2 separate regions of the Homo sapiens genome follow, and region 1 is linked to region 2. Evidence: fine-mapped expression QTL. A gene starts in region 2. The other region holds a variant in brackets. All regions are shown on one strand. Distances are from middle to middle.

Region 1 (5,386 bases), 260 kb after region 2:
CAAAATAGTGAAAAATTAGAATGCCACCTAAGTATCTAAAAAGGAGATCAGTTAAATAAAAGTATTTCTACAAAATACTATTTAGCAATTTTAAAATATAATTCAATTATTTACTAATACAGAAAAATATTAATGGTATATTTCACATGAAAAAGGTAGGCCATGAAACATGATTATGGTTTGATACCTTTTCTTTCTTTTTTTTTTTTTTTTTGAGAAAGGGTTTTACTCTCTCACCCAGGCTGGAGTGCAGTGGTGCCATCTCGGCTCACTGCAGCTTCGACCTGCTGGGCTCAAGTGATACTCCTGCTTCACTTTTTTGTGACCAGTGCACTCACACCAGCCTCCCAAGTAGCTGGGACTACAGGCATGCACCTCCAAACCTGGCTAATTTTTTTACTTTTTGGCAAAGATGAGGTCTCCCTATGTTGCCCAGGCTGGTCTCGAACTCCTGGGCTCAAGCGATCTTCCCATCTTGGCCTCCCAAAGTGCTGGGATTACAGACATGAGCCACTGTGCCTGGCCAGTACATATTTTTTTTTTATCATAAATGTTATTTTCAAAAATACTGAAATATGATTTAAAAACTGCCAAAAATATCAGCTTAGATAATATCCTCTAAAAATATCCTAGGGAGAACCTGAGTTCTTAATCCATATAAAAAAGGAGCAGTCTTAAAATTAAGTAGGTAAGTAGGCTCTTCTCCCTATGTGTCTGCATCTTTCTGTTGTCCATCCCTAGTAGATTAGGGCCCTTCTGCAGTCTTCCCTTTAGCAAAAATCTACATTCAGCAAAGGATCTGAATCATATCAATGACATGAAGTAGATGATTACTCATGGTGTATAAGTATTTTACTAGGGATCAAAGGCTTAAGCCAAAGAAAGAAATTAGGCACATTCTTGCTAGCTGGGAGGACCCATAAGAGAACAAAGGAATCTTCCTGATATTTCAAAGTTCTAGTACACAAGTTGACACCCACTCCGCTTAGCCACAATGCCAAAGCCTGAATGAAAACTATTCCATTGTTCTGTCAATGCTGCAGCCCTGCTAAGTCAGAGATTTTCATAATTTCAGCATATACAAAAAGCATGGCCAAAATCAGGAAAAACCATCTACCAAAATATTAAAGTTGAAGAAATAAAAGTGCAGTGAAGGGCCAGAAAATGCAATCTTGTTTCAGAACAAAGTTTCTGTAAAACTAGCAGCTAAAAAGAATCTTAAAAGGTTATTCTTCCCTAACTGCTAACCCTTCAGTTTTCTTCTTTCTTGTTCCAAAGAACTACTTATTGCAACAAGAATCAAACAAACCCTCCCAAATGTTTCATTATTGTCACCACAGGATTTCATTAATAGCAGTTGCCAAAAAAGGCTTGTCAGTGAGTCATCTGTCACCAAAACCTGAATCACTCAGGGCTTGAGTATAGTTGTAGCACTCCAACATAAACAATCCCCCTAATATCAACCCATTTCTAAATTTGCAATGCAACATTCTGCTACCCCATGGAGACTTTCTTGTGACCAGTCCACTCACACCAACAGGAAAATCTGCCATTTTCTTCACTGCTGCTGGTTGCTTTACTCACTGGTGGAACTAGTGTTAAGATTAGTTCTAGCTCTTTTATACTTCTGCTTTTTAGACATATAGACCAACGGGACAGAACAGAGGTCTCACAAATAACACCACACATCTACAGCCATCTGCTCTTTGACAAACCTGACAAAATAAGCAATGGGGAAAAGATTCCCTATTTAATAACTGGTGCTGGGAAAACAGGCAAGCCATATGCAGAAAACTGAAACTAGACCCCTTCCTTACACCTTATACAAAAATTAACAGAGGATGGATTAAAGACTTAAACTAACACCTAAAACCATAAAAACCCCAGAAGAAAACCTAGGCAATACCATTCAGGATATAGGCATGGCAAAGACTTCGTAACTAAAACACCAAAAGCAATTGCAACAAAAGACAAAATTGACAAATGGGATCTAATTAAACTAAAGAGCTTAAATTAAAAAAAAACTAAAGAGCTCTAATTAAACCAAAGAAACTAGCATTAGAGTGAACAGGCAACCTATGGAATGAGAGAAAATTTTTGCAATCTACCCATCTGACAAAGGCCTAATATCCAGACTCTACAAGGAACTTAAACAAATTTATAAGAAAAAAAACAACCCCATCAAAAAGTGGGCGAAGGATATGAACAGACACTTCTCAAAAGATATCTGTGC[A/G]GCCAATAAACATATGAAAAAAAGCTCATCATCATTGGTCATTAGAGAAATGCAAATCAAAACCATGAGATACCATCTCATGCCAGTTAGAATGGTGATCATTAAAATGTCAGGAAACAACAGATGCTGGAGAGGATGTGAAATAGGAATGCTTTTACACTATTGATGGAAGTGTAAATTAGTTCAATCATTGTGGAAGACAGTGTGGTGATTCCTCAAGGATCTAGAACCAGAAATACCATTTGACCCAGCAACCCCACTACTGGGTATATACCCGAAGGATTATACATCATTCTACTATAAAGACACACACAGACACGTTTATTGCAGCACTATTCACAATAGCAAAGACTTGGAACCAACCCAAATGCCCATCAATGATAGACTGGATAAAGAAAATGTGGTACATACACACCATGGAATACTATGCAGCCATGAAAAAGAATGAGTTCATGTCCTTTGCAGAGATATGGATGAAGCTGGAAACCATCATTCTCAGCAAACTAACACAGGAACACAAAACCAAACACCACATGTTCTCACTCATAAGTGGGAGTTGAACAATGAGAACACATGGACACAGGGAGGGGAACATCACAGACTGGTGCCTGTTGGGGGATGGGAGGCAAGGGGAGGGAAAGCATTAGGACAAATACCTAATGCATATGGGGCTTAAAATCTAGATGACTGGTTGATGGATGCAGCAAACCACCATGGCACATGTATACCTATATAACAAACCCGAATGTTTCGCACATGTATCCCAGAACTTAAAGTATAATTAAAAAAAAAAATTGTTATTCTGCCTTTTTTGTATTAGAAATACAGTTTGGTAAATCCAGTTTACTTAAGACTTAAAACTGCTAGCTATGTATACAAAACAATAAACTATCAGAAAAGTGGCCAAAAATTAAGTAATTATTTCAACTTTTTATGACATCACTTTGGAAAATAACCTATTCCCTTTTAACTTGAGTAGTTAAAAAAGTTCTAACCTGTTTATGAAAAAAAAAAACAGAGTTAATGTGATATATATTTGATGCTACTTAGCAAAAAATTTTGGTAGTCCGACAAGTATAATTTATATATTGGAACAAACAAAACTCTGGAATACACAATCTATAACAAGCCAATTTACTACAGAGAAGGTATCCATAAATTATTTCATGCCAAAGGGTCTAATGTCAGATAAATTTTTGTTTTGTTTCGTTTTGAGACAGGGACTCATTGTCGCCCAGGCTGGAGTGCAGTAGGCAGATCTTCGCTCACTGTAACCTCCGCCTCCCAGATTCAAGCAAATCTCCTGCCTCAGCCTCCCAAGTAGCTGGGATCACAGGCATGTGCCACCACGCGCAGCTAATTTTGTATTTTTAGTAGAGGCGGGGTTTCACCGTGTTGTCCAGGCTGGTTTCGAACTCCTCACCTCAGGTGATCCACCCGCCTCGGCCTCCCAAAGTGTTAGGATTACAGGCATGAGCTACTGCACCCGGCCACACTTAGTATCCCTTGTTAAATGTTAAATTATCCCTTGTTAATTATTATCCCTTGTTAAATATTAAATTTTAAACAATTCAGTAAAAAGTTGAAATGAGTAAATATTTTGAAACAACTTTAAATGTTATGGTAGAACTCAAAAAAATCACTTAAAATGTTCTAAATGTTAAGTATATCAGTAAACTAGAAAAATGACATCTAGAAGCTAACACGCTATCTACAGAAGAATTTACTTCCACAAGTTACCCAAATAAAAGTGAAAAAAAAAAAAAGATCAAGTGATAAAGTTAATAGATGTTCATTTAAATTCAAATGAAGGAATTTTTCATTTAAAATACATCTGGCCTGATGCCTGTAATCCCAGTACTTTGGGAGGCCAAGGCGGGTGGATCACTTGAGGTCAGGAGTTCTAGACCAGCCTGACCAACATGGTGAAACCCCGTCTCTACCAAAAATATAAAAAATTAGCCAGGTACGGTGGTGCATGCCTGTAATCCCAGCTACTTGGGAGGCTGAGGCAGGAGAATCACTTGAACCCAGGAGGTGAAAGTTGCAGTGAGTGGAGATCGCGCCACTGCACTGAACTCCAGCCTGGGTGACAGAACAAGACTCCGTCTCAAAAAAAAAAAAAAAAAAAAAAAATCTGAGGACTTCAAAGGTGGAAAAAGTGCTAGAAACAAAATGAACTAACATTTTCCACAAGCCTAGTTTTGGGTCTTCAACACAGCAGTATTAGAAGATGGCTTTTACTTTGAGGTCCATGTCAAATGACAAAGTTATCATGCTTAACCAAGCGGACTGCTGAAAGGCATCACTTTTAAAACAAAGGTTTTACTTCAGTCACTTCTATTTAAAAGTTACAAATTACGACCAAGTATAGGAATCTTCCCTATGCACAATCTCAGCGCACATTTAGAACTAATGGTCATGACTGGGCGTGGTGGCTCACGCCTGTAATCCCAGCACTTTGGGAGGCCGAGGCGGGCGGATCACGAGGTAAGGAGATCGAGACCATCCTGGCTAACATTGTGAAACCCCGTCTCTACTAAAAATACAAAAAATTAGCCGGGCGCGGTGGCGGGCGCCTGTAGTCCCAGCTACTCGGGAGGCTGAGGCAGGAGAATGGTGTGAACCCAGGAGGCAGAGCTTGTAGTGAGCCGAGCTCCACTGCACTCCAGCCTGGGTGAGAGAGTGAGATTCCATCTGAAGAAAAAAAAAAAAAAAAAGAACTAATGGTCAACATGACCCACGGCAATTTTGAATACTTGGAAGAGCAGTCTAAGTACCCTCACACAAGTTAAAACCGTGTTAAGTCAGAGTCACAACTCAATGAGCCATGCACCTTTAATTTACACCTGGAAGTAAAATAGTTAAAGTGGAGAATTAGGTAGCTGATTAATCTATCCTGGGGCAAATCTTACATACTTTAATTAAAGCCTCTGAAAACACCTGATGTACAGGTTATAAAGAACAGATTCTAGACCAGTCATTCTAAGACTTATGCATGTAACACACACTTTCCAAAACTTTTTTTTTCGCTCTTGTTGCCCAGGCTGGAGTGCAATGGCGTGATCTCGGCTCACAGCAACCTCTGCCTCCCGGCTTCAAGCAATTCTCGTGCCTCAGCCTCCCAAGTAGCTGGGATCACAGGCATGTGCC
Region 2 (5,386 bases):
TTAAAAAATTTAATTTCTTCAACAATTATTAAATTAATTTGCATTTATTTTGTTAGCCAAGAGGAGTAATTTTTGAATTTTTAAGAGGCTATTATTGGTGGTTTATAAGACGACTTGCCAAGTATATTTGGGATAACCATAAGAAATACCATTATAAAATCTCAGAAGGGAGGTAGGACTTCTGGAATAGCCAAGGAAATGCACTCCTCCATGATGACAATGAAAATACTTGGAAAATTATCAAAATCATTTTCTTCAAAACTTTGGAAGTTAACCAAAGGTTTACAACAATCTAAAGGGCATTAATTCAAGAAAAGCTGCTGAACCTCTATAAGAACAGCAAAGTCTGTGGTGTTTTAACTTGTTCTATTCCCCACTTTTCTCTCTCCAGCTCCATGGTACCCTTGAAAACAAGCAATTCCCCAACGAAACAGGGGCACAGGCTGCGTTTGCAGCTCTGGTAAAAGCTCCATACCCAGAGCAGTGTCTCCCAGCTCCCTGGTGAAGTCTTACGTATACATGGGGTGCTGGCACAGGTGCCTCCAGATAAGTCTCCTAGGCCATCTAGTAGTTCCTAAGTCTGGGCGCTTGCAAAGAGCTTGCAATTCATCAAGGGTTGAGTTGCACAATGGGGCTTTTAGATGTGCTGCTGAGGAAGTGATTGCCTGCATTTAATCGTCTTCTGATGAATGCTAGAGAAACTGATCTAGAGTGGCACCTCTTGGTTAGAACGAGCTGAAGCATACTGTATATATTTACTTCTTTAAAAAATTTCATATAAAGGAATAGAATACTAAAAAGAAAAAAAAACAAAAAAGGTCACAATATTCCATAATTCCATCACTCCTACCAATTAACTGAAGTAAAAAAACCCTCTCAAGTCTCTCCCTTTGCTTGTCAAGCCCTGCTGCAGAGAGGTAAGCTCTGTTCAGAATTTACTTTGTGTCCTGGATTTTTTCCTATGCTCATAGAGACAGGATTAGCTGGCCATCTTGCTTTCTGTGCTATCTTTTCTAGACATGTAAAATAATACATTTGAAATACTTGTTTTAATGGTATTTTATAATAAAGCAGCTTTTAATAACTTTTCTCTTTTCCAGCCGTCTTTGTGGCAATTTTACATTGGTAAGATTTAGTTTCAGTTCGAAATATTTAAAAACATTTGAATTAAAAATTGCCATCACTCTTTGCATACAGTAAAACAATAACTTCTGGCTATATTTGTAGAACATCTTTATGTACGCCATTTTATACATATATTTTGCTTTTTTACAAACCTCATATGTGAAACAGCATTTACAAAATAGATGCATTGGGGGAATAGTAACTTATGAATTAAAATATTTTGGCTTTACCAAATAATTCACCACGTTTTTAAAAATATCTAGCTTTTCTAGTGTATTTTGCATGTGTAGTTCATTTAAAACCCTCCTTTGTTTTATGGTAATTATATGTTGCTAGTGAAATAACTTTTTTTTTTTTTTTTGAGACAGTCTTGCTCTGTCTCCCAGGCTGGAGTGCAGTGGCGCGATCTTGACTCATTGCAACCTATGCCTCCCAGGCTCAAGTGATTCTCGTGCCTCAGCCTTCTGAGTAGCTGGGATTACAGGTATGCGCCACCACACCCAGCCAATTTGTTGTATTTTTAGTGGAGATGAGGTTTCACCGTGTTGGCCAGGTTGGTGTCAAACTCCTGGCCTCAAATGATCCACCTGCCTTGGCCTCCCAAAGTGTTGGGATTACAGGCATGAGCCACCACGCTCAGCTAGTGAAATAACTTTGGTGATAAAGTTTTAGTAACACCCGCCAATTGGAAGTCAGGTAAAAAAGAAGATAAAGATTCTGCAGTGGTTATACAGAGTTAAATGGCTTTGACTCTTTCAGTGTGCAAGGCTGTGTACATTATTTTACAAAAGTGTTTATAAAAATTTGTAAAATAATATTTCCCTCTGGAATATTTTATTTTTACCTGTGCTCAGCGATTTCTACCCTTGGAAGGTATGAGATCTGCCCCTATGTTCTATTGATACAGTGCTGCTCTAGACATTTAGTCTGCAGGGAGATTTTGGTATTAGAACTGAGGCTGCAATGCTAGGGAATATTCCTGCAGTTTTTGGTACCCTGGCATATGTCCTACATGTAAAGAAGGGTTAGTGGAAAACAGGGTTAATACATGGAACTTTGCTTTATTTTCAACTTCACTGGAAAGTACTGACTACATAAGTTAGCTATAGCATAATTGTTGACCACAGCTAATTTTGTTTATCACATATGCTCCTTTCTTCACTGCCTACAGCTGCTGAGTTTCACTACTAAAAGGTCTTCAAGTACACACCTGTATTCTTTGGCGCTTGAAAGTTGATCCTTTATGTGATATTATACTTATTGTAAGTCTGTTTTGATCTAAAGTAATTTTATTTAAAATTATATTCTGAACCCTTTTCAACAGTTACGGAGGTATTTCCCAAGGCTGGTACATTAGAATCACTTGAAACTTAAAAAACAAACACTAACCTGCCTCTGTTCTGATTTAGAGGCCTGGGATGGAAGGAAGGGTGAAACAAGCCACAAGAATTTTAGATATACAATTAAGTTGGTTTTTTTTTTTTGAGACAGAGTCTTACTCTGTCGCCCAGGCTGGAGTGCAGTGGCATGATCTCTGCTCACTGCAACCTCCGCCTGCTGGGTTCAAGCAATTCTTCTGCCTCAGCCTCCCTAGCAGCCAGGATTACAGACATGCACTACCATGGCTGGCTAATTTTTGTATTTTTAGTAGAGACAGGGTTTCACCATGTTGGCCAGGCTGGTCTCAAACTCCTGACCTCAAGTGATCTGCCCGCCTCGGGCTCCCAAAGTGCTGGGATTACAGGCATGAGCCAACGCACCCGGCAACAATTAAGTTTAAAAACCACTGAGTTAAGGAATTTCAGGTGTGTGCCATACTGCATTATAAATGCCTAAAAACATACGAGTTAGTAAGCAAATTATAAAAACAATATTATAACAATTTATTGTTTCCTTTTTTATGGCTTTCTTACTTATCGCTTATTTTAATGTTGGTTTTGAAACTTGTTCTTATTGTAATATGATACTTCATTGCACTGTTTCATAAGCTATAACCCAGGTTTATTATTTAAATAGTAAAGTGTTTGAGATTATTTTTCTGTTACTTCATTATCTCTCACCCTTTCCTAATGCAGACTTCTTTTTAAGATAATGAAGATGAATTATAGTAGCTGAGGAAGGAGGACAAAGAAAGCACTGAAGAAGTGATAAAGGGGAATGAAATGAGATGTTATCAGAAATTGCTTTTTCTTTGGCTACAGTTGGGAGGTCCCATGTTTTACTGGGTCTTTTACTGATGATGATTATTATTTGGTTCTCTTTTGATTTCAAGATAATCTCTTTTAAGAGATGACTTTTGATATAATTTTTAAATATTTTTCTGTTTTTCGATACTTAATCTTTAAAATGGAGTTTTCTGCCATACACATCTCACATAATTATTGTGAGGAGTAAATGGGATAGCGAATACCAAAATTGTGCAATTTTACATTTAGAAGACACCACAACCGTCCATCTTCCAGATCTGCTCCCAGCTGGTCGGGGGCCTACTGAAGCATTGAAGCTGACTCTCCTCACTCTAGCCATTGCTTTTTGTTTAAATTATGGTGAAATTTAGATTTAAGTTTGTAATAGAAAAATGTCAATGGTTATCATTTAAGCGTACAATTCAGTGACATTAAGTACATTCGTGTTGTCTTGCAACTATTACCACTGTCCACATCCAGAACTTTTTGCTATCCCAAACAGAAACTCCACCCACTAAACACTAATCACACTCAGCTCTATTTTCTATCTCTATGATTTTGCCTATGCCAGGCCCCTCCGTCACTGCTTTTTAATTTTCATCCCTATATTGCCCCTATAAAGTTTCAAAGCATTGGATACATTAACATATGTATGACATTTGAACATTTTAAAGAGAATATTTAATATTTCCCTAAATATAGACTTTTGCATATTAGATATCCTTTAATTATTGTATTGCTTTATCCTCCTAAGCAGAAAGGAAAATTCTTTATGAACTCATATTTTGCCAATCAACTATGAGGTAATGGCCTTTCAGACATCAGCTAAAACAGACGTTTAATTTAGTAGTTACTCGTGTTGGATGAGGCAGATATGATTATAGCATATAGCATTTTTTAGGGAGAATGCATTTTAAACAATGTGGCCCTTTTTTGCTTTTAGATTTTAGGAGCGAAAGCAAGAAATTGATGGGGAAATAAGACATAACATGCTATTGTTAATCCATGAATTTTAACTCAACAGCACTTTTACTATCCTAATGAAGCCTTTATTTTATATGCTGAAGTGTAAGACACTAAAATAATCTGCTTTTTAGTACATAGTATTTGTGAGCAACAATAGTCAATCAACATTGAGCTTTCACTTAGCACAGAGGATTAGATGGAGCTATGAATTAAGCTAGAAGCACTGGATTCCTTGCTCATGATGCTTATGGTCATTATATTTTATTTCCTAAGAGCATGGGAAAAAAAGAAGTAATTTTCTATATGCAAAGTTGTACAGAGGCATGAAGGCATCCCTGTTTATGACAGAATTAATCAGATGTCAACCTTCAAGCATCTCAAATGTGGGGGATAAAACCAGATTTGGGAAAATTGAACATATACTGTCTACACATTTTAAGACATTATTAGAGAAACTCTTTAAATCATTCGACCATCCCTCCAACTCTTTAGTTTGAAAGCCTATAGAAAACTTGAAAGAATAGTACAGTGATCACCTGAAAATACGTGCTTTTTAAAGTCCAAGAATGCAAAATAGCGAGGCGTAATTAGGAAGTCTTATTATTGACCTTTTTTTTCAGAAAAAAATGTTCTAAAGAAGTGATAAAAATAAATATTTTAAAGTTTTAATTACATTGACAACATGTGCCTTCTTTTTTTTTTTTTTTTTTTAAAGGGACTTTTATTCCTACTTCGAGACCAATATTGAAGCACCTTCATTTTTGGAAGGACTGGGGACGATAATGAATGACAGGCTTACTGAAATCCTCTTGGAATTAATGCAGTAAAATGCTTCCATCTTTATCCAGAGGTGAGTCATAATTTGAGACAAATAATATATTTATAGAGTGATCCTCTTTATCAGATAAAAATAGTAAGCACAATCTTTTTAAGAAAGGGAGGGGACCTTTCACGTTTATTAGTTGTGTGTATCCTTATAGTTGAGCAGAATATCATAAGTTCCTCTCTTAAAATTTAAAGACCCCAGAAACTGTTCTCTCATGAACTCAAAGAATGAACTTTAGTGTGTAAATAATAGCCAGGGTAATAGACAAGCCAAATGGAAAAGA

The links. PIP is the estimated chance that this variant, and not a neighbour inherited with it, causes the effect. A credible set is the group of variants that fine-mapping cannot tell apart.
Region 1: its variant is the best candidate, but not a certain one, in a credible set for the expression of LINC00997 in visceral fat (GTEx, PIP 0.54).

Annotation. Positions count from the first base shown.
Region 1 is chr7:32,497,221-32,502,606 of GRCh38, reverse strand. The region is part of intron 1 of AVL9 (AVL9 cell migration associated); the gene reads right to left. Among named protein-coding and RNA genes, the nearest start is that of AVL9, 4.4 kb to the right of the region's middle. The variant A/G (reference allele first, on the strand shown) is at 2,234.
Region 2 is chr7:32,755,015-32,760,400 of GRCh38, reverse strand. LINC00997 (long intergenic non-protein coding RNA 997) reads right to left here and starts at 2,115. Exons shown (of 1, transcript NR_036501.1): 1 at 1-2,115.